Linked DNA regions of Homo sapiens. The protein of the gene in region 1 purifies or fractionates together with the protein of each later gene. This does not show direct contact. Each region holds a gene or a part of one and is shown in the gene's direction. Other genes may lie near its edges.

Region 1 (3,500 bases):
TAAATCCTCCAAAAGTTAGACGAAACAAGATAGTACATTATGAGTCTTAATTTTATCATTGTGGAAAAATGTGTACTAACTCCTGATTTTGTTAATTTTATAACATAGGTTGAATTTTAGAGTGGGGTTTTTATAAGTAATGGAGGATAAAATGGGTGGGAGAAAATGGCACACAGCACCTGAAGAAAGATGGGGCAGTGACCTCTAGAACTCATGCATTGCCATTGGAAAGCCTGTGTTGGGCATCGATGTCAGATCCTGAAGAATCACCTGGAAAAAATCCCATCCTAGAGGCAAGGAGGCTACACCAAACCATACACTACAGTACTTTGTCACATGGTTGTCCATTATCATGTATTAGAGTCTAAATGATTACTTGAATAAAGAAAAAAAACCACTTAACTCTTACATATGAAATGTGTTTTGATTTTTAATTTTTGGATTAAGAAACTCAGATTGCCATAATAACCTTTTATTTCTTCCCGTGTATATTATTACAAATTATATATACTTTCAAACATAGTTTTTTTTTTTTTTAATTGAGACAGAGTCTCACTTTGTCACCCAGGCTGGAGTACAGTGGTGCAATCTCGGCTCACTGCAACCTCTGCCTCCTGGGTTCAAGTGATTCTCCTGCCCCAGTCCTCTGAGTAGCTGGGACTACAGGCGCACACCACCACACCCGGCTAATTTTTGTATTTTTAGTAGAGATGGGGTTTCACCATGTTGGCCAGGCTGGTCTTGAACTCCTGACCTCAAGTGATCCACCCGCCTCGGCCTCCCAAAGTGCTGGGATTACAGGCATGAGCCACTGCGCCCAGCCTTCAAACATAGTTTTAATGTCAGTACATCTTTAATGACTTGAAGTTTTAAAACATTTTAAGCCTTTAAGGTGAAAGCCATTTAATTAATTTGCTCTAGAAATAAGCACAAAAAATTATAGTTAATTTGAATACATGTATGTAATGCATGTCAAAATAACTTGTTAATAGCTATGTGCAACTGTGTTGCATACATTGATCACTAATGGCATTTAAAAATGATCTGCCTAAATCTGAGGATCTGTTTATTATAAATCAGTAGTACTAAAATATACCACCCTGTTTTTATGTTGTGGGTGTTTTTCTTGATTGATTGATCCTGATAAATTAAACAGTACCTTCAAGTATGGACTTTTAACTCCTCCAGTTAATGCATCATATGTTTACTGGCTAATATTAGATTGAACATTTTTCTCTCTATGTCAGTATCTCCATATGCACATTGGTTGCCGCATATATACATCTGAGTTTGAAAAGTTCTTCTGAGATTACCTAAAAGTAACACCACAGATTCCTTCCATTGTAAATACTTTATTTTATTTTATTATTATTTTTTAGAGACATGGTCTCACTTTTGCCCAAGCTGGAGTACAGTGATGCAATCATAGCTCACTGCAGCCTCAAATTCCTAGGCTCAAGGGATCTTCCTTAGGCTGGATGCTGTGGCTCACACCTGTAATCACAACACTTTAGGAGGCCAAGGCAGGAGGATCACTTGAGGTCAAGAGTTCAAGACCAACCTGGTCAATATAATAAGAACCTGTCTTTATGACTTCTTTTTTTTTTTTAATTATCCAGGCATGGTGGTACACACCAGTAGTCCCAGCTACTTGGGAAGCTTAGGCGGGAGGGTTACTTGAACCCAGGAGGTCAAGGCTTCAGTAAGCAGTGATTGTGGTACTACATTCCTGTCTGGGTGACAGAGTGAGACCCTGTCTCAACAACAAAAAAGGATCTTTCCACCTCAGCCTCTCTGGTAGCTAGGACTACAGGCACACAGCACTATGCCCAGCTAATAAAAAATAATAATTTTTTATAGAGGTGGGGTCCGCTATATTTTCCAGGCTAGTCCCAATCTCATAGCTTCAAGCAGTCGTCCAGCCTTGACCTCTCAAAATGCTGGGATTACAGGTGTAAGCCACCGTGCCCTGCCCATGATAAATATTTTAATTTTGCCTGATAAGTCATAAAAAGTTTATTCAACACCTTAAATAGATTTCTCAATTTTTTAAAAATATTAAACCTTTGAAATCGAAAGTAATTTTTGGATTTCACCCCTTTATTGCAAGGTTTTTGATGTCTGTGGGAAAAACCCCTGAATTGCTTGTGAAACTCTGGATATGTAATTTTTTTTCTTTTTCTGAACAGAGTAAAATCTTGGATGGGCCATGATCCAAAAATCATGGTTTTGAAAGTAGACCGTACTATAAGCCATAATCACAAATCTGAGGTAATAGTTGTGAAAGTGTTTAAAACATCCTGAAAACAATGTTGAAAAAAAAAATCTATGATAAAAACTATAAAATCTCTGCATATGTTATACTGTATTGAACTTGAAACTTTGAAGGAATTAGAGTAGATAAGACATTAATGGTAGAAGAGAAACCACAGGGGTGAATTATATCCTACAAAAGAGAAATCTTCATGATTTAACCTTTTTTTTCTGAGTGACTTTTATTTTGCCTTATTAACAGAAACCTGAGAAAGTATGTTGCTTTGTATTAAATGGTTGAGACCATTATTTGATATAAAAGCTGAAAATTTAATTTTTGTATTTTGGAGAATTCTGTGGTTCCAAGTAATTGAAAGAATGACTAAAGCTGTATGTCATAGACCCTGCTAAAATGAAATAACTTGTTGGGAACATTCCATGCAGATTTCCAAAATGTATTTTACCTTATTATTAGAGAAAGAAAATAAACTTTTAAAATAATCTGATAACTAGCATTCATATATTTAATAAGTATTTTGGTTACAGAAGGGAAGGTGATACTGTACATTGTAACTGCTGAGACTTTTTTTTAACCAATGTCTTTGGTAGATAGCGAGGCACAATTATTTTCTCTTAGGGAGGATTTTGAATACCTATTGCAGGCTGGGCATGGTGGCTCACGCCTGTAATCCCAACCCTTTGGGAGGCCGAGGTGGGTGGATCACTTGAGGTCAGGAGTTTGAGACCAGCCTGGCCAACATGGTGAAACGCCGTCTCTACTAAAAATACAAAAATTAGCCAGGCATAGGGTGGCACACGACTGTAATCCCAGCTACTAGGGAGGCTGAGGCAGGAGAATTGCTTGAGCCCGGGAGGCGGAGCTTGCAGTGAGTTGAGATTGCGCCACTACACTTCAGCCTGGGCGACAGAGCGAGACTCCGTTTCAAAAACAAACAAACAAAAACAAAACAAAAACACCTACTGCAGACCATGTTCTTTTTACTTTATTTTATTTTATTATTTTTTTGAGATGGAGTCTGGCTCTGTTGCCCAAGCTGCTCACTGCAACCTCCGCCTCCCGGGTTCAAGCGATTCTCCTGCCTCAGCCTTCCAAGTAGCTGGGACTACAGATGTGCACTACTACGCCCAGCTTATTTTTGTATTTTTGGTCGAGATGGGGTTTTGCCATGTTGGCCAGGCTGATCTCAAACTCCTGACCTTAGGTGATCTTCCCGCCTTGGCCTCCT
Region 2 (3,500 bases), on another chromosome or scaffold:
AATTTATAAGAGCTTGCATTTAAAAAAGAAAGTAACCGCACGGAATGCATTGCTGAACTTGAAGTAAACGTCGTGTTCTTCCATTACGAAAGCCACCTTCTCAAAGTCCTGGCAGAGTTAAGGAAAGAGATGCTGGGAAGGCAAGGCGCCGGAGCCCCATCCTTTCACTCCGGGCAGGGGCAGCTGATGCCCTGCTGGGGGGCAACCCCTCACCCCTCACCCCTCTCGGATCTGCCAAGGCGGCGGCGGTGGGGGTGGCCCGCTGGTCACATACTGCACCGGCAGCCTTCACCTTGGCCTGAATGCATGTGCGGCTCTGCCTGCTGCTGTGGGACAGTGCTGTCGTGGTGTAGACGGTGGCCCTCCTCAAGGCCTCCCAGGCCTGGCGCCCAGGACATGTGACTGTGGCTGTTTTCGTTTTGTTTGGGTTTTTTTTTTTAATTTTAGAGATAGGGTCTTGCCGTGTTGCCCAGGCTGGAGCGCAGTGGTGCAACCATAGCTCACTGTAGCCTCGACTTCCCAGGCTCAAGCGATCCTCTTGCCTCAGCCTCCTGAGTAGTTTGGGCCACAGGTACACGCCACCATGCCTTGCTGATTTTGATTTTTTGTAGAGACAGGGTCTCACTACGTTGTCCAGGTTGGCTTTGAACTCCTGGGCTCAAGCGATCCTCCTGCCTGAGCCTCCCAAAGTGCTGGGATTACAGGCGTGAGCCACCACGTCCGGCCAGAATGATCCGTTATTTCCAGCAAGGAATAGCCTGAGAAGCACGGCAGGCCTTGAGTGGCGTTAGAGAGAAGTGCTGACATCTTGAGTGATGGAGAGGGTGGCCCTCTGGGCAGGGTGTGTCCCACAGGGTGCCTGTTTGGACGTGGGGTCCTTCCTCATGGTGAAATGGGTCTTTTGGGTTCCGTGGTCTCTGTTTGGGGCATCGGGGCACCTGTCCACCTGGGAGGTGGGGGTCAGAGGCCCAGCGCTGGTCCCAGGGCTGTTTTCTGGTGGTGAGACCTGGAGTCCAGGGGCTTTGATGTGAGTGTGAGCAAGAGGGAGTGGGCAGCTGGCCAGGCCACTGCTTCCATCATGCCTGGACCGTGGCACCTTCCTCCTCCCACCGTCAGCCCGTGTGGCAGGAGACTCAAGCTGTGAGTTTCGCCTGTGACTGAGGGCTCAGGGAGAGCCACTGGCATGTGGCAAGGCTGGGGGAAGAGGAGGGGCAGGCGCCCTGTGACTCAGGGTTGTGTCCAGCAGGACCTGTGCACTCTAGCCCCTCCCACACTCTCCCCTGGGCGTGGAGATGCCACGGCAGACACCTGCGAGTCTGTCTGTCTGTCTGTCTGGCCTCTGCTCCTGGCTTTTGATGGGGATGGCCTGAGAGTGCTCTTTGCCTGGGGAGAGGAGGAGGCTCTGACTGGTGTCTGCCAAGGGCCAGTGGCACGTGCCCAGGTTCCTTCCCCTGCCAGGGCCACTTACCGGGTCATCAACACGGGGGGTGTACAGCAAGGGCGACGGTGGCTGGTAACAGGACGATGGTTGGGGAAGGGGTCCCTGGAGGGCAGTGGGCTGGAAGGTCAGGTTCTTTTTTTTTTTTTTTTTTTTTTTTTTTTTTTGAGACAGAGTCTTGCTGTTACCTAGGCTGGAGTGCAGTGGTGCGATCTCAGCTCACTGCAGACTCCACCTCCCGGCTTCAAGCGATTCTCCCGCCTTAGCCTCCCAAGTAGCCCGCCTACTTTTTGTATTTTTAGTAGAGATGGGGTTTCGCCATGTTGGCCCAGCTGGTCTCGAACTCCTGGCCTCAAGTGATTTGCCCGCCTCAGCCTCTGAAAGTGCTGGGATTACAGGCATGAGCCACTGTACCCCGCCGGGAAGGTCTGGTTCTGAAGGCAGTTTCTGGGATGGCGGTTTGGGGAGCCCGTCTCCTTCAGGGGTGAGCACTCCAGAGAAAGCAGGACCCCCACCCCTGGCTCGCAGTGACCTCAGATCCCAAACCTTCCTTCTCTGCTTCTGTGTCCTTGCCTGTGTGTGGTAATCGTGATCCCCGTGGATAGGTGGAGGTTGAGGGAAAACTGGGCCCCAGTGCAGGCCGTTCCTGCACGTCTCCCCGTCCCCACCTCGGCCCTGTGGGCTCCTGGCGCCATCACCTGCCGTTCTATCACCAAGAAGCACTTCCAGGCCCTGCTGAAACCTGGTGCGGGAGGCCGAGCCTGAGGAAGGTGGAGGGAGAGATGGGGGGATGAGGAGGGGACGGCGTTGGGGGCCGGGAGGGCTGCTCCCAGGGAAGGCGGGCGGCAGCCTCGTTGGTCTTCCCACGGCCGGTACCAGCCGCTGGACTCCTCCGCCAACACTTTCCTGACAGGCGCACGGGCTCTCTGATGCAGATGGCGGGCGCCCTGCGCATGCGGTCCCTCCACCTGGAAGGCAGCCCTTCTTCCCTTCATGTCCCCAGATGTTGCTAAAGATTCAGGAGATAGTGGAAATTGGAGTCGTCTCCAAAGGATCTCTTTGGGGAAAGGAGGCTGAGGTCTTGGCTCCTCCTAGCCTGGCCTCAGCGCCTTGGCTCTAGTAAGGAGCCGGAGACTGGGGTGGGAGCTCCGTAAGTCACATCTGCACCACGCCACCCAGGGCCCGCTGCCCTGCCCCTGCCCTGAGCTGGGGCGGCCGCAAAGCCTTAGGTGGCTGAGACCCCACCCAGCTCTGCCTGACAGCTGGGCGTCCTGTGGGGAGGGCAGCGTGAACACTGTGGAGCCGTTTGTGTCTCAAGACCCAGAGAGGCTGCAGTGGAGGTGACTCTGTGGAGGTGGCAGGTGGCTGAGCAGGGCCTCGGGAGCAGGGTTGGGCAGGATGGCCCAGGGTGCTGTGGCGGGCACTGCATTGGGGGCGGCGTGTTGTCCAGCCCTTCTTTCCTGGTGGGTGGCAGGTGCCTCGCTTTCAGTCTAGAGCAGGGAGCTTGCGCCCTGGACTCGGGCTGGACGTGTCGCTGACAGGCCGAGGGGCAGCCGGATCAGTTCTGCTTCCAGGGCCCAGGGAGGCCCGTCCCAGCCCTGCTGCCCCCACCCAGCAGGCAGGCCTGGCCTAGCCCATTCCTGAGCTCCCGGGCAGGGTCAGGCGAGGCCAGGGTGCGGCGGCGGGAGTGAGAATCCACGGAGCAGAGCGTGCGACGCCTGAGCGCCCTCATGATTTCTCTTCTGCTTTTAGTCACCACGTTCTGCGCTTTTCCGAGTCGGACATATGAGCAGCGTGGAGCTGGATGATGAACTTTTGGACCCGGTGAGTTGGGGGTGTTCCCCGTCCTCCCGCAGAGCTAGCTGCATCTTAGCAGAGGGTGACAGGGATGGGCACGGGCCGAGCGGCAGGGAGATAGTGGGGCCCCAGGGCCGGGGTTCAGGGAAGATTTCCTTGGGGGGACATGGTCCCTGACGCCAAGTGAGCAGAGGCAGCTGGGCAGAAGTGCTCTCAGACGGAGGAGTGCAGGGCGCAGGAAGCCGGTCAGGACAGCAGTGACAGC
Region 3 (3,500 bases), on another chromosome or scaffold:
CCATGCCTGGCTAATTTTCTAATTTTTTCGTAGAGATGAGGTCTCACTGTTTCCCAGGCTGGTCTCTAATGATTCTCCTGCCTTGGTCTCCCCAAAGTGCTGGGATTACAGGTGTGAGCCACTGTGCCCAGCCAAGTTCAGCTTTTTCTCAAGGGGTAAAGGATAAACCCATTTGGTTACTTGCTGGAGTAGCACTTTGGAGTTACTGAGGGCTGCCCTTAGCCACTGTGCTGGTTTTATCTCAGGGCTGCTTTCTGGAGAGCTTTACAGATATTGTCTCACAGCTGCATTTGCAAGCAGGAAATACTTCTGCTTCCACTTCTGCTTTCTCTCCTTTTTTGGTAGAGGCCCTTTTAGTCTTCTGATCCTTACCCTTCTGGGTTTAGGAAGTTTTGCTGGCAGTAACATGGACTAATGCCCTTTATATAAGATTTTGTTCCTTTGTTGAGAATTTGTTACTGGCCCAATGGCAAAGGGTTCAATAGGACTTAATAGAAATTTTTCATGAAGTCAGTTAAAGTGAGAGTAAGGCTGCCTAGCCAATGCAGGTATTACGTAGGGCAGTCATTGCATGTCTAACCACATACGTCTACCAGTTCTGACTTCTCCATTGCTGGTTTTGAGCTGGAATGATTGCAGGCAAAATTTATTAAGTTGCATATCTACACAAGCCTTTCCTTTCTTCCATCCTTCATCAATCAACAAACATTTATTAACTACTCTTTTTAAGGAAAACTACACCTTCCTGTGAGTGAAATGTGTCCCAGAACAACAGGCACTTCCTTATCCTTCTAGCAACATGGAATTAAGCATGACAGTGTTTTGATATATCCCACCATTATCCCATCACTTTACAGTTGAGGAAACTAGGTCTTAGGCTAAATAACCTTCCCAGTTAATACATAAGAAGAGAGGGGACTTGAACCGTAGGCACAATGCTATTTCTATAATTTAAGGCTGATTGTTTCCCCCTAAGGGAAAGTTTTTAAGTTTGCTTTTGGTCAGGGTGGGCATATTTTGACATAAGGCATTGTCTCATAAGGCAGTTAAGTTTCTTAGTCTTTAGAGTTCCACAGTGATACTTAAGAGCTCTCCTCTCTACCATGGTTTTATGCACAGAATGTCTGCTTTTATCAGTTTTACATATTAGATTGTGTTTAAGGTCTACTTTGAAAAAAGTTTCAATAAGCAGCAAGTGGTCAAAAGAAAAAAAAAAGTTTTGGTACTTAAAACAGTTTGAGAAACATTGCTATGAGAGATAGAGATAGAATCCAGAGTCTCTATCTTAGTGGAGTTTGGTCTGATTAGGGTAATAGACTAGGTTGTATATACATAGAAGCTGGTGATGATAGAAAAGCTGCCATTGAGCGGAGCCTAAGAAACACCACGGGTAGGAGAATGTGAGCCCATAGGAAAGAAGGGTTCTGGAGTCACCACTGTTATGTACCCGGATCACCTGTGACAAGTTCTTCTTTAATCCTCCCAGGGATAAGAAGCATGTAGACTGGGTCAAAGCTTATTTAAGTATATGGACAGAGCTGCAGGCTTACATTAAGGAGTTCCATACCACCGGACTGGCCTGGAGCAAAACGGTTAGTGAATCCTTCCTCCCTCCCTCCCTCCCTCCCACTTTCTCTCTCCAGCATGGGGTCCACAGGTTTCTTAGACTTCAGCACTACCAAAGTCTGTGAGGGAATGCTAGTTTTTTCAGTGGAAGGGAGGAAGAAAAGGAGGAGAAAGAAAGGGTAAAAAGAGTAGAGGAAGCAAGGATCAGAGGAGAAGGAATATTCAGTGGTATTCAATTTCAATAAATATGTTAGGGACAGTGATTGGTGCTGGAGCAGGAGACACACACAAATGAGTTACACTATCCCAGCCTTTAAGGAGCTTAAAAATAAGAATGCAAAACCCCAATACAAATCACCAAGCCAAATGCTATAATAAAGATACAGACTAGAGTATGAGGAAGAGAAGAGTGCTTCTCACTAGAAGAGATTGTACTTTGAAGGTATATACTCTTCTGTGAGACTTGAAAGTAGTATAGGGCAGTGAGAAGTGGGATACTACAAAAGGCACAGCTTAAACAAAATACATGCAGAGTAAATGTAGAGATTGGTCATCTCTGGCTTCAATAAGGGGAAATGATCAGAATTTTAGGAGAAAAGGCTGGAAAGGAAGGTAGGCTGAGACTTTGGGATGAGGTATTTGAGCAAGGGAGTGATAATGATTCAATTTGTCTTTAAAAGAGTCTCAGTGTATAGGTTAGGGATAAGGACTCATGCTCAGATTATGAAAGTGGTCATGGTGTTTGGGGGATAGTAGAAAAACATTTGCAGGAGATAGCACCAAGATAATAGAGATTTGATAAGGTCGAAGAAGTTGGAATCCTCAAAGAAGATTGAATAGTCAGTCTTGGATAGTAACATCTTTCACTGAAATAGGGACAAGGGGATGATTGTACAGGGAGAGGAGCGGCAGGAAATGATGAAATCAGTTTTGAATCTGTTGAATCAGAGGTACTGGTAACACACTAAGGAAGATGTCAAGTAGATTTGTGGAAATAGTTTTTAGAGCTGGAATCAGGTGAGTTCAAAGGCAAAATGTGATGGTCAAGAAATAGAACTGAGAGCTGGATCCTTGGGAAAGGGTGAGAAGGCATAAAGCCAAGTTGGGTATGGGTAGGACACATTAATCATTGCCTCAAAGGCTGTGGTGGGGACCCCATGTGCACTGGCCCATGTAGGGCACTACTGGGAATGGTACAGAGGGGAGCAGAGAGGATGATGATGTTACCTGCACTTATTGTTCCAGGGGCCTGTGGCAAAAGAACTGAGCGGACTGCCATCTGGACCCTCTGCCGGATCATGTCCTCCTCCCCCTCCACCATGCCCCCCTCCTCCCCCAGTCTCTACCATTTCATGCTCATATGAGTCTGCTTCCCGCTCATCACTGTTCGCGCAGATTAATCAGGGGGAGAGCATTACACATGGTGAGTGAGCACTTGGACACGAACAGTAGGTACAACAAGTTGTGTGGGCCAGACCCCACCAACCAGAACCGTCTGTAAACTACAACCCTGGCTTGTGTGGTGGAGACTCGTTTGGTGTGTCCTGTTCCTTTAAGGGACGGCAAAGCTGGCTTAAATGGAAATTGAAAATGATGATCACAGTTGGAGGAAGCCATCTGCCCCATGGGAAAGTGACTTAATATTAGGTAGCATATATAGAGGACCCTCTTGTGCCAAGGCACAGAGCTGGCGGTTTTCCCCAGAGCTTTTTCCGTGGCACCACATGGCCTCTGGGAAGGCATTGTGTTAGGGAGTTAACTTCCTCAGAAGATGCATACTGGTTACATGGAAAATTTGCATGAGAGTGACCTAATGTTGGTATAAAGTAGATACCCTTAACACAGCTGGTGGAAGTCTGAGTTGTCCAGCCACTTCTAGGAATCTATGATCATAGTAGCTAAAAATGGTGTAACAACCTAAATCCAACTGTAAG
Region 4 (3,500 bases), about 110 Mb from region 1:
TACTGGTGGCATTATATCTGTCCTCTGGAAACATGGTGAAGACTATATTTCCTGACACCAAAGAAGGGAAAACAGGGCTCAAGAAGGTAGCTCACCATTTAACAGCTTGTGGTGAAACCCACCAGAATGGTGCAACACTGCATGGAGTTGATGTGTTGGAAAGTCAGGCTCTCCCACAGTACCTACCAGAGGACAGCGGGGCCGCTCACAGGAATGCTGGAATCCCCATCCAGCAACCCAGAGGGCATGCATGGCTATAGACTTAAAGATGCACCACCTTTTTTTTTTGAGGCGGAGTCTCTTTCTGTTGCCCAGGCTGGAGTGCAGTGGCACGATCTCGGCTCACTGCAAGCTCTGCCTCCCGAGTTCATGCCATTCTCCTGCCTCAGCCTCCCGAGTACTGGGACTACAGGCACCTGCCACCACGCCCGGCTAATTTTTTTTGTATTTTTAGTAGAGACGGGGTTTCACCATGTTAGCCAGGATGGTCTCGATCTCCTGACCTCGTGATCCGCCCGCCTTAGCCTCCCAAAGTGCTGGGATTACAGGCGTGAGCCACCGTGCCCAGCCAAGGTGCACCACCTTTAAATGCAAATTTTTGCATTTTTAGTAGAGATAGAGTTTCACTGTGCTGGCCAGGCTGGTCTCAAACTCCTAGCCACAGGTGATCTGCCTGCCTCAGCCTCCCAAAGTGCTGGGATTACAGGCATGACCCACTGCACCTGGCTGGGAAAATTGTTATAACATGGATTAAGCAGGAATACTATGATTACACACACACACACACACACACACAACGCGCACACACACACACACACACACACACACACCACCCCCTCACCTCTCCCAAGGGGAAAATGCATTGAAAAGGACTAGAAGTAAATATGTTATTCCAGGTTCTCTGGGCAAGGAGTTGATAGGTAAGGATTTGAGATGGAATAAAGGGGATATTTCATGGGAGCCTTGGTGCTGGTGTTTGGACCTGGTGAAATGACAGAAGAGCTGTCTGGAGCATGCATGGACAGGGTCTGCACAGAAAGACCTGTGGGGTGTGGAAATGGTGGTTTGGTCTGGCTGGAGGTGGGGTTAGAAGTGAAGGCTGGTGGCCGGGCGTGGTGGCTCACACCTGTAATTCCAGCACTTTGGGATCCTGAGGCAGGCGGATCACCTGAGGTCAGGAGTTCGAGACCAGCCTGACCAATATGGAGAAACCCTGTCTCTACTAAAAATACAAAATTAGCTGGGCGTGGTGGCGCATGCCTGTAATCCTAGCTACTCCAGAGGCTGAGGCAGAAGAATCACTTGAACCCGGGAGATGGAGGCTGGGGTGAGCCAAGATCGTGCCAGCCTGGGCAACAAGAGTGAAACTCTGTCTTAAAAAAAAAAAAAAAAAAAGTGAAGGCCAGGCGTGGTGGCTCACGCCTGTAATCCCAACACTCTGGGCTCTGGAAATCTGAGGTGGGTGGATCTCCTGAGGTCAGGAGTTCGAGACCAGCCTGGCCAACATGGTGAAACCTTGTCTCTACTAAAAATACAAAAAATTAGCCAGATGTGGTGGTACACGCCTGTAATCCCAGCTACTCGGGAGGCTGAGGCAGGAGAATTGCTTGACCCCAGGAGGCGGAGGTTATAGCGAGCTGAGATCGTACCACTGTACTCCAGCCTGGGCAACAGAGCGAGACTCCATCTTTAAAAAAAAAAAAGGAAGTGAAGAGCAGGGCCAGGGTGGGTCGAGGGCTCTTTTAAGTACTTAGGGAGATGACCTTGTCTTTGACCAGACTGAGATAGCAGCTTACAGAGGGAGCGAGAAACCCTGAACATGGAGAAGATTTAAAAGGTAGCATGGGGTTGGCTCTGACAGTATACCTTCTCTCTGAATGAGTCTTTTGTGTCCTTCTCTTCAGGTTCAGATTCAGAACAAGAAAGTGGACATCTCTAAGGTCTCCTCCAAGTGTGGGTCTAAGGCTAACATCAAGCACAAGCCTGGTGAGTGGTGCCTCCCTTGCCCACTGGGTCTCCAGGGTATGTCGTCCTGCCATGGGTCAGCTGGGCAGCCAGCTGGCTGGCAAGGGTTTCATCTCTGTGCCTTTAGCATCCCATGAAGACTACCCAGGACACCACAGTCCTCATTCTGTCAGGGAGCAGGAGTTCGGGTGCTAACCTCTAAGTGGAGGAGGAGCAGTTTCTTACAGCAGCCATCTGCACAGGCATTCTCTTGAGTACCTACTGTGTGTGTGGAACTATTGAGCTAGGCCTGGGGAAGTGGTGCACTCTGAGCTGAGAACCTGGATTGGCTCTAAACGAGGATTACAGAAGCTACTGCTGAAGGAGCTGTATAGAGGGCAGTGTTCAGGTCCCACCTATCAGATGCAGGAGCAAAGGGTGCTCCCAACCAGTGAAGCATCAGCCGCTAGCCCTGGCAGGAGAATGGGAGGCGTTCAGCAACTTGCACTAATGCAGTTTCCTTCCAGCAACATGGTTGGCCCAGCGCCCCTGTGGAAGTCGCTGTGCGGAGGCTGGGCTCTTGCCTTGGGTAGTCCCCTAGCAGCCTCGTGTCCTAGTTCCTGGGTCTACAGCAGATTTGTGAGTAGGACTGCTGTAGCAGCAGGCACACTGGCTGGCAGACCTGGTATCCCAGAAGGCTAGCCACCACAGGCCAGATAAGGTGAAGGCAAAACTCTCTTCCCTCAGGGCGGGCGCGGTGTCTCATGCCTGTAATCCCAGCACTTTGGGAGGCCAAAGCGGGCGGATCACTTGAGGTCAGGAGTTTGAGAACAGCCTGGCCAACATGGTGAAACCCTGTCTCTACTAAAAATACAAAAACTAGCTAGGTGTGGTGGTGCATGCCTTTGGAGAATTGCTTGAACCCAGGAGGCAGAGACTACAGTGAGGCGAGAGTATGGCACTGCACTCCAGCCTGAGCAACAGAGCGAAATTCTGTCTCCAAAAAGAAAAAAAAAAAACTCCCTTTCCCTCTCAGCGAAGAGCATGATCCAGTTTAGAATGTGTTCTATTTAGAAAGATCAAAACAGTTCTGTCCTTAACTAACCATTTTTTTCCCCTTTTATCTGGGAAATCTCCTATCAGATACTTCCTTCTCTAATGACACTGAGTCACTTAGGGTCTAGTTTTTGCCAGGGCTGGGTTTCCCAATATGGGACACCGGGAGACCTCGGCCAGAAGCTGTGCGTGGAGGTCTGCCATGTGAGCTGAGAGGAGATGGAAGAACAGGAGAAGGGGCCCAAGGGAAACCACGCTGCTGGGCGCGGGAGGGGCTGGGTACTCATTGAGGGCAGCTCGTCCCGCACCCTTCCCCTTGGTCTCATGGGCACACTCTGGCCAGTGAGCTCTGAACCCTGGGCGTGAGTTCAGACCACTTTCCCTCCCCGTCCTAGCCTGAGGTCACTAGATCCCAGGCCTGCCTTGGTCCATGTCTTTCCTTCCTCAGCGCACAGCCTCGGGGCCACTCTGTCCTTTTTATTATTCCTTCTTTTTGCTAG
Region 5 (3,500 bases), on another chromosome or scaffold:
TGTTTAAAGTTAATGTTTCCCCAGCAGCATTTAGTACAAGCAGTAGAATGCTCTAGTGGACTTAACCATAGCTAAATAAAACTTAATATTCTGTGTCTGTATTTGTTCTTTTCTCTATTCCATATCCTTTAAATTTCAACTCTTAAAACACTGTTGGTTCTGCCTTCACTTTTATTTCCATAAACTCTAAAGTCCTAGTGTCTATAAACTTACTTCATATAAAGCAGCTGTATTAGAAATATAATTAATGTGAGCCACACATGATTTGAAATTTTTTAGAAGCCATACAAAAAAAGGAACCATGAAATGTTAATAGTATAATTTATTTAACCCAGCATACCCCAAATAGTATTATTTCAACATAATCAATATAAAAACTAATAATGAGACATTTTATATCCTTTTTAAAATTTGTACTGTGCCTTCAAAATGTATTTTACACTTTAATAGCACATCTGAATTTGAACTAGCTACATTTCAGTGCTTAACAGCCATATACAGTAATAGATAATGCAGATCAAGAGAATTTCCAACTTTGTTTTACAGGTATTTACATACATCTTTGTAGCCACTCTTAGAGCTAAGTTCCATGGAAGAAACATGTTCTTGAGTACTTACTGTAGTTCAAGGGCACACTGAAGTGTTGTATGTAATTTTGTCATTTAGGCAGGGTGGTGGTTTTCCTATTCACTTCTCTCATACGTAAGAAGTATAAACTCATCCTTCCTTCTGAGAGTTTAGGAAATAATGTTATTGACAATCATCATCAAAACAACCATGTCTAGTGAATTAGAATTGCAATTCTAGATATTTCTTCACTCCACCCTTTTCTTTCTCTTCCCCCCACCCTTTTCTTTCTCTTCCCCACCTCCCGCCAGTAAAGGAAAATTTTTTGTTAGTTAATTGCTAAACTGAATATGTACCACATAGTACATTGCTTAGTTCTTGCACTGCTTTTCTCCTGTGTCGTTTGAATGACTAAGATACCAACTTTCCACAGGAAAGTGATGACCCCATGGCTTATATTCACTTTACTGCTGAAGGGGAAGTTACCTTCAAATCAATTTTATTTGTACCCACATCTGCTCCACGTGGTCTGTTTGACGAATATGGATCTAAAAAGAGCGATTACATTAAGGTGAGTTTTTAAGTAGTACATGCTGCGTTTAAAATTTGAAAGTTTAATTTCCAGAAAGTGACTTTTTTTTGGTCTCTTTAGCTCTATGTGCGCCGTGTATTCATCACAGACGACTTCCATGATATGATGCCTAAATACCTCAATTTTGTCAAGGGTGTGGTAAGTATCTGAAGTTTGGGAGAAGGGGTGATTGTTGTGGGGGTCTGGCAGTGTAGAGTGTTTGTTTGGCTTTGCTTTCTTCCAGTGGTTTTATTGCTCACTGAACTTTCTTTTGCCATCTGAAGGTGGACTCAGATGATCTCCCCTTGAATGTTTCCCGCGAGACTCTTCAGCAACATAAACTGCTTAAGGTAAGTGTCTCTGGGAAGAAACTCTCCACTTTGCTGTTTGATTGGGGTTCAGAGGACAGGCTCCATTTGTGGAGTAAAACCAGATTTTGGGTCTGGTCCATGATTCTTCAGATGAATTTCCTTTCTTTCTGGAGTTATCAGATCCTAAGAATCTGATTCTTTTTCTCCCAACATTTAATAATGAAGTTTCAAACATCTAGAAAAAAATTAAAGAATTGTACAGGTCCAGGATTAACATTTTGTCATCTAGACACATAGCCACCTTTTTATCAAGCCTTTCATTAAACCTTTCCCCTCCAATACTTCCATAATTAGAAGACTCTTTAGTTTTTGAATTTAAAAGTATTTGAAAGTAGCATATTTGTTCACTTCATTTAGATGCTAGAGAGAGAGTATCACTGAGTCCTAAGGTTAGAATATAAACATTAAGGCAATCTTGTGGCTATTTGCACGGACAGCTGAATTTCAGCCCAATCTGAATGAATTGGAGTGCTTCACCATTTCCTGCCCCTCAATAAATGGCAATAACGATATCGTCTTTGTGTTTTTCACACTCCTGCCTGGGTACCTTACATTCTCAAAAGTTGGAGATTAACTTCTCTAATCAGTTATTCTTTCATTGTGTTTAGGTGATTAGGAAGAAGCTTGTTCGTAAAACGCTGGACATGATCAAGAAGATTGCTGATGATAAATACAATGATACTTTTTGGAAAGAATTTGGTACCAACATCAAGCTTGGTGTGATTGAAGACCACTCGAATCGAACACGTCTTGCTAAACTTCTTAGGTTCCAGTCTTCTCATCATCCAACTGACATTACTAGCCTAGACCAGTATGTGGAAAGAATGAAGGAAAAACAAGACAAAATCTACTTCATGGCTGGGTCCAGCAGAAAAGAGGTGAGATGAACTCATAAGTGTTGTCAGCCATTCTGGAAGGTAGCTAGGGATTTATAGCCAACTCTTGAGGGGGAGAAAAGGAAAACTTAATTGTGTAACTGGAGTAGTTATAAGGCCTGGTCAGTCACTGACAGGAAGGTCATTTATATTCTCTGAACCTCTTAATTCTTCACCTGTAAAATGGAGTTTTTAATAATGTATAAACATAGCAGCTGCTAGGATAAACAAATACACCAGGGCCAGACTTGGAAAACTTTGTGACTTCTTAATTTTGTAGGCTGAATCTTCTCCATTTGTTGAGCGACTTCTGAAAAAGGGCTATGAAGTTATTTACCTCACAGAACCTGTGGATGAATACTGTATTCAGGCCCTTCCCGAATTTGATGGGAAGAGGTTCCAGAATGTTGCCAAGGAAGGAGTGAAGTTCGATGAAAGTGAGAAAACTAAGGAGAGTCGTGAAGCAGTTGAGAAAGAATTTGAGCCTCTGCTGAATTGGATGAAAGATAAAGCCCTTAAGGACAAGGTACTGTGGAAATTACAAATTGTGGAAATATTAGTATCAGCATTTAAGAGAAAGTTATTTTGTGAACAAATTAAGCTGCAGCTGGTTACTTTGTAACCATTAGAATGGTAAAAATTTAATTAATGTAATTAAATTATTGGGAGAAAGCTTAAAACTTTCGACAATACTGCTTTGTTAATAACTTGTTACAAATTAAATTTTATGTTTTTAAAAGGTGGTATTTAAACTTCTGACTAGAAAATTCAGATTATCAAGTAAGTGCCCCTACAAATTCTCCTAAACCTTAAGAAAAGCTATTTTTATGACCTGCTTCTGTGTTTATGATCTTAAGTGATAAAGTCTTAGACAGTTGAAAGACAATTGCTCAATGACCTTACCTGTTGATATTAATTTATATGACTTGATTTCTTTCCCTAAGATTGAAAAGGCTGTGGTGTCTCAGCGCCTGACAGAATCTCCGTGTGCTTTGGTGGCCAGCCAGTACGGATGGTCTGGCAACATGGAGAGAATCATGAAAGCACAAGCGTACCAAACGGGCAAGGACATCTCTACAAAGTAAGCATCCTCGGGAAAGTCCCTGCCAGGGCGTT
Region 6 (3,500 bases), on another chromosome or scaffold:
TGGGCGGATCACTTGAGGCCAGGAGTTCAAGACCGGCCTGGCCAACATGGTGAAACCCCATCACTGCTAAAACTACAAAAATTAGCTGGATGTGGTGGTGCACGCCTGTAATCCCAGCTACTCGGGAGGCTGAGGTATGAGAATCACTTGAACCCAGGAGGCAGAGGTTACAATGAGCGAAGATCATGCCACTGTGCTCCAGCCTTGGTGGCAGAGTGAGGCTCTGTCTAAAAAAAAAAAAAAAAAAAAAAAAACTAAAGTGTTTAGAAGAATGCCTGAAACAGTAATTACCAGTGTTCACTTTTATTTGTTATTATATACGCTTATTTAAGAATTCGTACAATACAGAAAGGTACTGAGTGCATCATAATCCCTGTGCTTTTTAAAAACTTTTGTCTCATTTTAGTTAGAAGAACCCGAAGAACCTAAAGTGCTAACACCAGAAGAACAATTAGCAGATAAACTGCGGCTAAAGAAATTACAGGAAGAGTCAGACCTCGAATTAGCAAAGGAAACTTTTGGTAAGACGGGATTATGATTGCAATACAGTATTAAACTGTTACAGGTGAAGACCCAGAAAGTTCAGAAAACATCTCCTTTTCTTAAAAGAAACATACTGGCTAATGTAGATATTAGAAAGCAGTTTTTAATCTCTGTGTATATTTGAGATTTCATTACATGTTCAGATTTTTGAATAATTGTTTTGAGTAAAAGATTATTAAGATAAGTCATTTATAGCAATGCAAGAAGGGCAAAAAGGAGTAGACTCAGATGAAGTACACTACTGCATAGAATATTTTTATCAGCTGGATGAAATTTGCATGAAATGTGAGGTCTGTAGCTTTGAAATGGACTGTAGGGCTGTCCTGTTGTCTTAAGACTTAGACAGTAGGATGTTGCTCCAGGTGAGAGGCATGCAGCTTTTGCTGTGCCTTCTTGTGCTCAGTGTCATTTCCTTCTGCAACCCTTCTTTGCCCTTACCATGCCCTATCTTTAGAGGGCCTCCATTTCTTTGTGCGGTGTCTGCAGCTGTGGTTAGTGCGTGAGATAAAAGTGCAGGATCCTATAAATAGATAAATTCAGAGTGTTCCAGAGTAAGAGACATGGCTAGAGAAATAGTCAAAGCCCTCGCTTCATTTAACCAAGTTATCGTTACCTGTTGAGTACTTTTCAGAGTAGAAGATCATGTTGAAACAGTTAAATCACTGAAATTTATAACCAAGAAGGAAAGCTCTAGTTATTCTGATACCCCTCCCCCACTTTCATACTTTCTCTACTCTGAAACAGATCAACAGGCTGACTGTAGTGATTGTTTTCCTTTTCATGAGGAAGTATGACCTTATCTGTCAGTGGATCTGTACAAATACCAGGAGTTGATGTGAATGCTCCTGTGCACCATTGTATGCTTGGCAGGTCTTAACTGCACTCATCTAATTATAGAGAGCTCTTGGCTGTTAATATGTGTCTTCCTAGGATGGTAAAAGCTGCCCATGTGTTTATTAAAGAGGCAGGTTTATGAAGTGTGCATAAAGCCTAGCATGGGACACCTGTTATAGACTAAAAGGTAAAAACATGCATTCATATAGTCATTGTTAATAGGATTTTACTGTTGTGTTTCTCATACTAAAATACCACATGTAATATTGTTAATAACTAATCTACTTGACATGGAGGATACAGAAGCATACTTATCTTAGTGTAAAACTCATCTAGGCCAGATTTTTTTTTTTCTAACAGGGTCTGGCTCTGTCATCCAGGCTAGAGGACAGTGGCTGAGATCGGCTCACTGCAACCTCTGCCTCTGGGCTCAAGCCATCCTCCCACCTTAGCCTCCCAAGTAGCTGGGACTACAGGCGCATGCCACCACGCCTGGGTAATTTTTGTTTTTTGGGGCTTTTTTTGTAGATACAAGGTTTCACCATGCTGCCCAGGCTGTTGTTGAAGTCCTGAGCTCAAGTGATCTGCCGCCTTGGCCTCCTAAAGTGCTGGGATTACAGGCATGAGCCACCATGCACAGCCTAGGCCAGATTTCTTCTATTGGGATTTAACATGTTTACCCCCGCTTAGCTTCTGGAGTTAGACAAATACTTTCACAGGATCCATCTTTGTTTCTTATTCTTTTTGTTCCCTCTCTCCCCACTTTACTGTGGGGGTGTTCTTGGACAAGAACAGAGTATCCCTTTTGTAATGTAATATGTTGTGTTTTGTTTTTAGAGAAAGGTTCTTGCTCAGTCATCCAGTCTGGAATGCAGTGGCATGACCATAGCTCACTGCAGCCTCAAACTCCTGGGCTCAAGCAATCCTCCCACCTCAGCCTCCCGGGTAGCGAGGGCTACAGGTGAATATCACCACACCTGGCTAATTTTATTTATTTTTTTGAGACAGAGTCTCACTCTGTCACCCAGGCTGGAGTGCAGTGGTGCAGTCTCGGCTCATTGTAACCTCCGCCTCCTGGGTTGAAGTGATTCTCGTGCCTCAGCCTCCCAAGTAGCTGGGATTACAGATACATGCCACCACCATGCCTGGCTAATTTTTGTATTTTTGGTAGAGACAGGGTTTCACCATGTTGGCCAGGCTTGTCTCTCGGACTCCTGACCTCAGGTGATCGGCCTGCCTAGGCCTCCCAAAGTGTTGGGATTACGGGTGTTAGCCACTGCGTCTGGCCACACCTGGCTAATTAAAAAAATTTTTTTTGTAGAGATGAGGTCTTGCTGTGTTGCCCAGGCTGGTCTCAAACTCCTGGCCTCAAGCGATCCTTCCTCTTAGGCCTCCCAAACAAAACACTGGGATTACAGGTGTGAGCCACTGTGTCTGGCCTTGATATATTGTTTTTAAATGAATAAAATACTTATTTATAAAGAAAACCTGTTATATATAAATAGATGTCAAAATACTAAAATGACAAATTTGTGATACAGAATTATATGCTTCCTTATCGATGCATTAAATCAGGTGTAGTGGCACGTCAAATAATGTCATTTGAGAGTAATTATGACTGAACAATATTAATATTGTAAGATATCTGTAATGGCAGGAGAGTGTGATCTCTCCTGGTAAGTCAAGTTTTGCTAATACCACTGTGATTTGTTGCCAGTCAATTGAAACTGAAGGAAATGCTGAATTAGAGGTTAATAAAGATGTAACTTTTTTTCTGATTTAAGTTTGTAACCCCCCTCCCCCCTCACCCAGCCATTCTATCCAGTGACTCCAGTGGCTCCAGGTTCAGAGCCCCTGCTTTAGAATGAAACGACAGGGTTATTCAGATAGCTATTGGCTTTGTAAGGTTTCATTTTTAAAAATCCTAACCTCCTGATACTTTTCAGTGCTTCTTTTCTCCTACAGGTGTTAATAATGCAGTTTATGGAATAGATGCTATGAACCCATCTTCAAGAGATGACTTTACAGAGTTTGGAAAGTTACTAAAAGATAAAATTACACAATATGAAAAGTCACTATATTATGCCAGTTTTTTGGAAGTCTTAGTTCGAGATGTGTGTATT
Region 7 (3,500 bases), about 54 Mb from region 1:
TGAGGTTTATGTCACTGATGAGCTGTATGACTTTGGACAAGTCATTTACTTTTTAGGGCTTCATTTCTCCATGTGTGAGATGAGACAGCTGGACCATGTCACTTCACAGGTGTCTTTCCCTTCTAATATTCTGGGTTGTAAAATAGAGGTGGGCATTTCCAGTTGTTTCTCCCCTAGTTCTGTCTCATCCAACTCCAAGTTTATAGTAGCTTTGAGTAGAAGGAAGCAGCCAGACCTATGGTAGTCCATATTGCATCCTTGCAGCAAAGCCATCCCTGTGTCATCCATTGGGCCTACCATTGGTGTGACTCTGAGATGGAGTTGGCTCCTCCTGAGGGAGTCTGGGTAAGTTCCAGCATTCTTAGCTTCTTGATTTCTCTGCTTGGCTCTGGGGCTGTTCTCCAGACTCAGAACAAAACCCCAGTGGTTGGAGGCCCACCCCTTCTTCACAAGGGCATTCTTTTCTTTCTGGAAGGGGTATGGATGAGGTAAGGAAGGAGGGATCCTGAAGGAGCAGAAATAAAGACCCTGCTTACAATTTAGAGAGCTGATAGTTTTGTGGGAACTGTTTTTAATGGCCATGTGTGGGCAAGGCTTTTAATAAAGTAAAGCCTGATGGTTTGTTGTGAGTTGTTTGTGATTGTTTTTATCAGCCTTTTTATTTATTATGTCAACTTAGTTTTATTGATTGATTGATTGAGATGAGGTCTCACTCTCTCACCCAGGCTGGAGTGCAATGGTGTGATCATGGCTCACTGCAGCCTCAACCTCCTGGGCTCAAGCGATCCTCCCACCTCAGCCTCCCAAGCATTTGGGACCACAGGCGTGAGCCACTGCACTCAGCTAATTTTTTTGTATTTTTTGTAGAGACATGGTCTCACTGTGTTGCTCAGGCTAGTCTCGAATTCTCATGCTCAAGCAGTCCGCCCGCCTCAACCTCCCAAAGTGCTGATGGCTCACACCTGGCCTCAACTTAGTTTTAAATTTAATTTTTAGAAGGAAAGGGGAAGTAGATATTGTCCCCAAAAGTGTAAAGTCAGTTCCACTTTTTGTTTTGCTTGTTTTTTAAATTGAAACAGATATAACTAAGCTTTGTTTGATAAAGTATAATTTGTACATTAGGAGAAGGGAAATACTTTGTATGGCTTGATGCTAGACAAGGTTTGATGTGATGCTGACCAGTGAGGGCCTTCCTAGGTGTCTGTAGTTGCTTGCTTCTTAAATTCTAATGATGTAGCTTGGTATTTCCTTTGATGACAAGGATCACACTGACTGTTTTCATCACGTCCCACCATATACTTTACAGACATATCTTCACCTGATAAAAATAAAGCCTGTGTCAGTGCTTGATCTAATCAAAAGAAAGTGGTAGCTTGAGATTTTATTCAGTTAAAATGGGGCTAAATGCTAAGTAGTAGTTAGGTAGGAAAATCTAGAAGAGAAACCTGGAAATGCAAGGAGAAAAAAATGAAACCTACTTTAACCCTTAAGAATATATGACAATTTATATATATATATATATATATATATATATATATATATATTTTTTTTTTTTTTTTTTTTTTTTTTTTTTGAGATGGTGTCTCACTCTGTCACCCAGGCTGGAGTGCAGTGGTGTGATCTCTACTCACTAAAACCTCTGCCTCGCAGGTTCATGTGATTCTCCTGCCTCAGCCTCCCAAGTAGCTGAGATTACAGGCACCTGACACCATGCCTGGCTAATTTTTGTATTTTTAGTAGAGACGGGTTTCACCGTGTTGGCCAGGCTGGTCTCAAACTTCTGACCTCAAGTGAGCTGCTTGCTTTGCCCTCCCAAAGTGCTGGGATTATGGGCATGAGCCACCTTGCCCATCCTATAGGACAATTATATTCTGATGTTACTTTTTCAAAATTGACCGTGAACTCACTGAGGGCAAGGACTATATAGCTTATCCATCTGAGCATTGCTGGCTTGTAGCACCTATAGTAGTGGGCACTAAGTAGGTGCTAAGGAAATATTAGTTAAATTGGATTGTCAACATTTACTTAAGGCACTTAAGGGAATATTTAGGGATATGAGACACATCTTCTTTCCTCATGGGTGCACGTACTAAGTGATGAATTATACAGAGTTTTTTAGGAATAACAAGGACTGCCACTGATTCCTGGGACCTTCAGAATGTCTCCAGGCAACTGGACCTTGAAATACAACTTAGAGGGAGAAAAGGGAATTTTTAATTTGCGATGCTATCTGTGTTATTCTCATGATAGAGATGGAAGTTTTTCTGTAGGACATTAACATGATTTTTCATCTACAGGGTAAAATTGAAAGTCAAAAGAAACAGGGTTGCTTCTTTCTTTTGCTTATTGCAAAAAGAGGTGTTTGTTTTCATTTTTCAAAATTACATTTGAACTTGCCTTAATTTTATTTTTAAAAACATTCATTTTTAATCAACAGATAAGTATATTTATGGGGTACAATGTGATATTTTATATATATACATTGTGGAATTAGTACATCAAGTAAATTAACATATCCATCACCTCACATACTTACTTTTTTATAGTGAGAATATTTAAAATCTCTTCTTTTAGCAGTTTTGAAATATATGATACATGATTATTTACTATGGTTACCATGTTGTGCAATAGATGTCTAAAACATTTTCCTTCTGAGACCTTGATTAATATTTCCCCATTGCACCTACCCGTCTAGCAGCCCTCTGGTAACCACTATTCTACTCTCTACTTCAACTTTTTTAAGTTCCACATATAAGTCAGTATAAGGCAAATATTGCATGAGGTTCCACATCAAAGACATCTGTGTGTGGCTTATTTCACTTAGCATAATGTCCTCTAGTTTCATCCATGTTGTTACAAATGACGGAATTTCCCCAAAGAAGTATTTGGTTGCTGATATGTGCTCATAAAACAGAAGTTAAAGCCCATGTCTTGAGAGAAATAATATTTATCTGTTAGGAGAATAAAATGTAAATGCCAATTTGATTTTTATAATTTAAATTATCATAAACAGACACTTCTCAAAAGAAGACATACATACAGCCAACAAACATATGAAGAAAAAGCTCAATATCACTGATCATTAGAGCAATGCAAATCAAAACCACAATGAAATTGTGGTTCTCACACCAATCAGAATGGCTATTATTAAAAAGCCAAAAAACAACAGATACTGGCAAGGTTGCAGAGAAAAGGTAACAATTATACACTGTTGGTGGAAGTGTAAATTAATTCGATCATTGTGGAAAGCAGTATGGTGATTCCTCAAAGAGCTAAAAGCAGAACTACCATTCGACCCAGCAATCCCATTACTGGGTATATACCCAGAGGAATATAAATCATTCTGCCATAAAGACACATGCAAGGAAATGTTCATTGCAGCGCTGTTCACGACAGCAAAGACGTGGAATCAACCTAAATGCCCATCAGTGACAGACTGGATAAAGAAAATGTGGTACATATGTACCATGGAATACTATGCAGCCATAAAATTGAGATAA

What was found.
Region 2: the proteins of SLC33A1 (region 1) and CLCN7 purify together in Homo sapiens (affinity purification with mass spectrometry; one large-scale study listed by BioGRID and IntAct). This does not show direct contact.
Region 3: the proteins of SLC33A1 (region 1) and CAP1 purify together in Homo sapiens (affinity purification with mass spectrometry; one large-scale study listed by BioGRID and IntAct). This does not show direct contact.
Region 4: the proteins of SLC33A1 (region 1) and MAP4 purify together in Homo sapiens (affinity purification with mass spectrometry; one large-scale study listed by BioGRID and IntAct). This does not show direct contact.
Region 5: the proteins of SLC33A1 (region 1) and HSP90B1 purify together in Homo sapiens (affinity purification with mass spectrometry; one large-scale study listed by BioGRID and IntAct). This does not show direct contact.
Region 6: the proteins of SLC33A1 (region 1) and EIF3J purify together in Homo sapiens (affinity purification with mass spectrometry; one large-scale study listed by BioGRID and IntAct). This does not show direct contact.
Region 7: the proteins of SLC33A1 (region 1) and NXPE3 purify together in Homo sapiens (affinity purification with mass spectrometry; one large-scale study listed by BioGRID and IntAct). This does not show direct contact.

What each region holds. Positions count from the first base shown.
Region 1 is NC_000003.12:155,823,428-155,826,927, reverse strand, and holds part of SLC33A1 (acetyl-coenzyme A transporter 1), read left to right. Parts: 3' UTR 1-3,500. UniProt on the Homo sapiens protein: Acetyl-CoA transporter that mediates active acetyl-CoA import through the endoplasmic reticulum (ER) membrane into the ER lumen where specific ER-based acetyl-CoA:lysine acetyltransferases are responsible for the acetylation of ER-based protein substrates, such as BACE1.
Region 2 is NC_000016.10:1,465,029-1,468,528, reverse strand, and holds part of CLCN7 (H(+)/Cl(-) exchange transporter 7), read left to right. Parts: intron 1-3,190; coding exon 3,191-3,262; intron 3,263-3,500. UniProt on the Homo sapiens protein: Slowly voltage-gated channel mediating the exchange of chloride ions against protons. Functions as antiporter and contributes to the acidification of the lysosome lumen and may be involved in maintaining lysosomal pH.
Region 3 is NC_000001.11:40,064,729-40,068,228, forward strand, and holds part of CAP1 (adenylyl cyclase-associated protein 1), read left to right. Parts: intron 1-1,486; coding exon 1,487-1,592; intron 1,593-2,811; coding exon 2,812-2,989; intron 2,990-3,500. UniProt on the Homo sapiens protein: Directly regulates filament dynamics and has been implicated in a number of complex developmental and morphological processes, including mRNA localization and the establishment of cell polarity.
Region 4 is NC_000003.12:47,855,917-47,859,416, reverse strand, and holds part of MAP4 (microtubule-associated protein 4), read left to right. Parts: intron 1-1,904; coding exon 1,905-1,986; intron 1,987-3,500. UniProt on the Homo sapiens protein: Non-neuronal microtubule-associated protein. Promotes microtubule assembly.
Region 5 is NC_000012.12:103,940,410-103,943,909, forward strand, and holds part of HSP90B1 (endoplasmin precursor), read left to right. Parts: intron 1-1,000; coding exon 1,001-1,138; intron 1,139-1,219; coding exon 1,220-1,297; intron 1,298-1,422; coding exon 1,423-1,488; intron 1,489-2,117; coding exon 2,118-2,387; intron 2,388-2,664; coding exon 2,665-2,910; intron 2,911-3,328; coding exon 3,329-3,465; intron 3,466-3,500.
Region 6 is NC_000015.10:44,554,147-44,557,646, forward strand, and holds part of EIF3J (eukaryotic translation initiation factor 3 subunit J), read left to right. Parts: intron 1-406; coding exon 407-521; intron 522-3,342; coding exon 3,343-3,500. UniProt on the Homo sapiens protein: Component of the eukaryotic translation initiation factor 3 (eIF-3) complex, which is required for several steps in the initiation of protein synthesis.
Region 7 is NC_000003.12:101,817,211-101,820,710, forward strand, and holds part of NXPE3 (NXPE family member 3 isoform 1 precursor), read left to right. Parts: intron 1-3,500.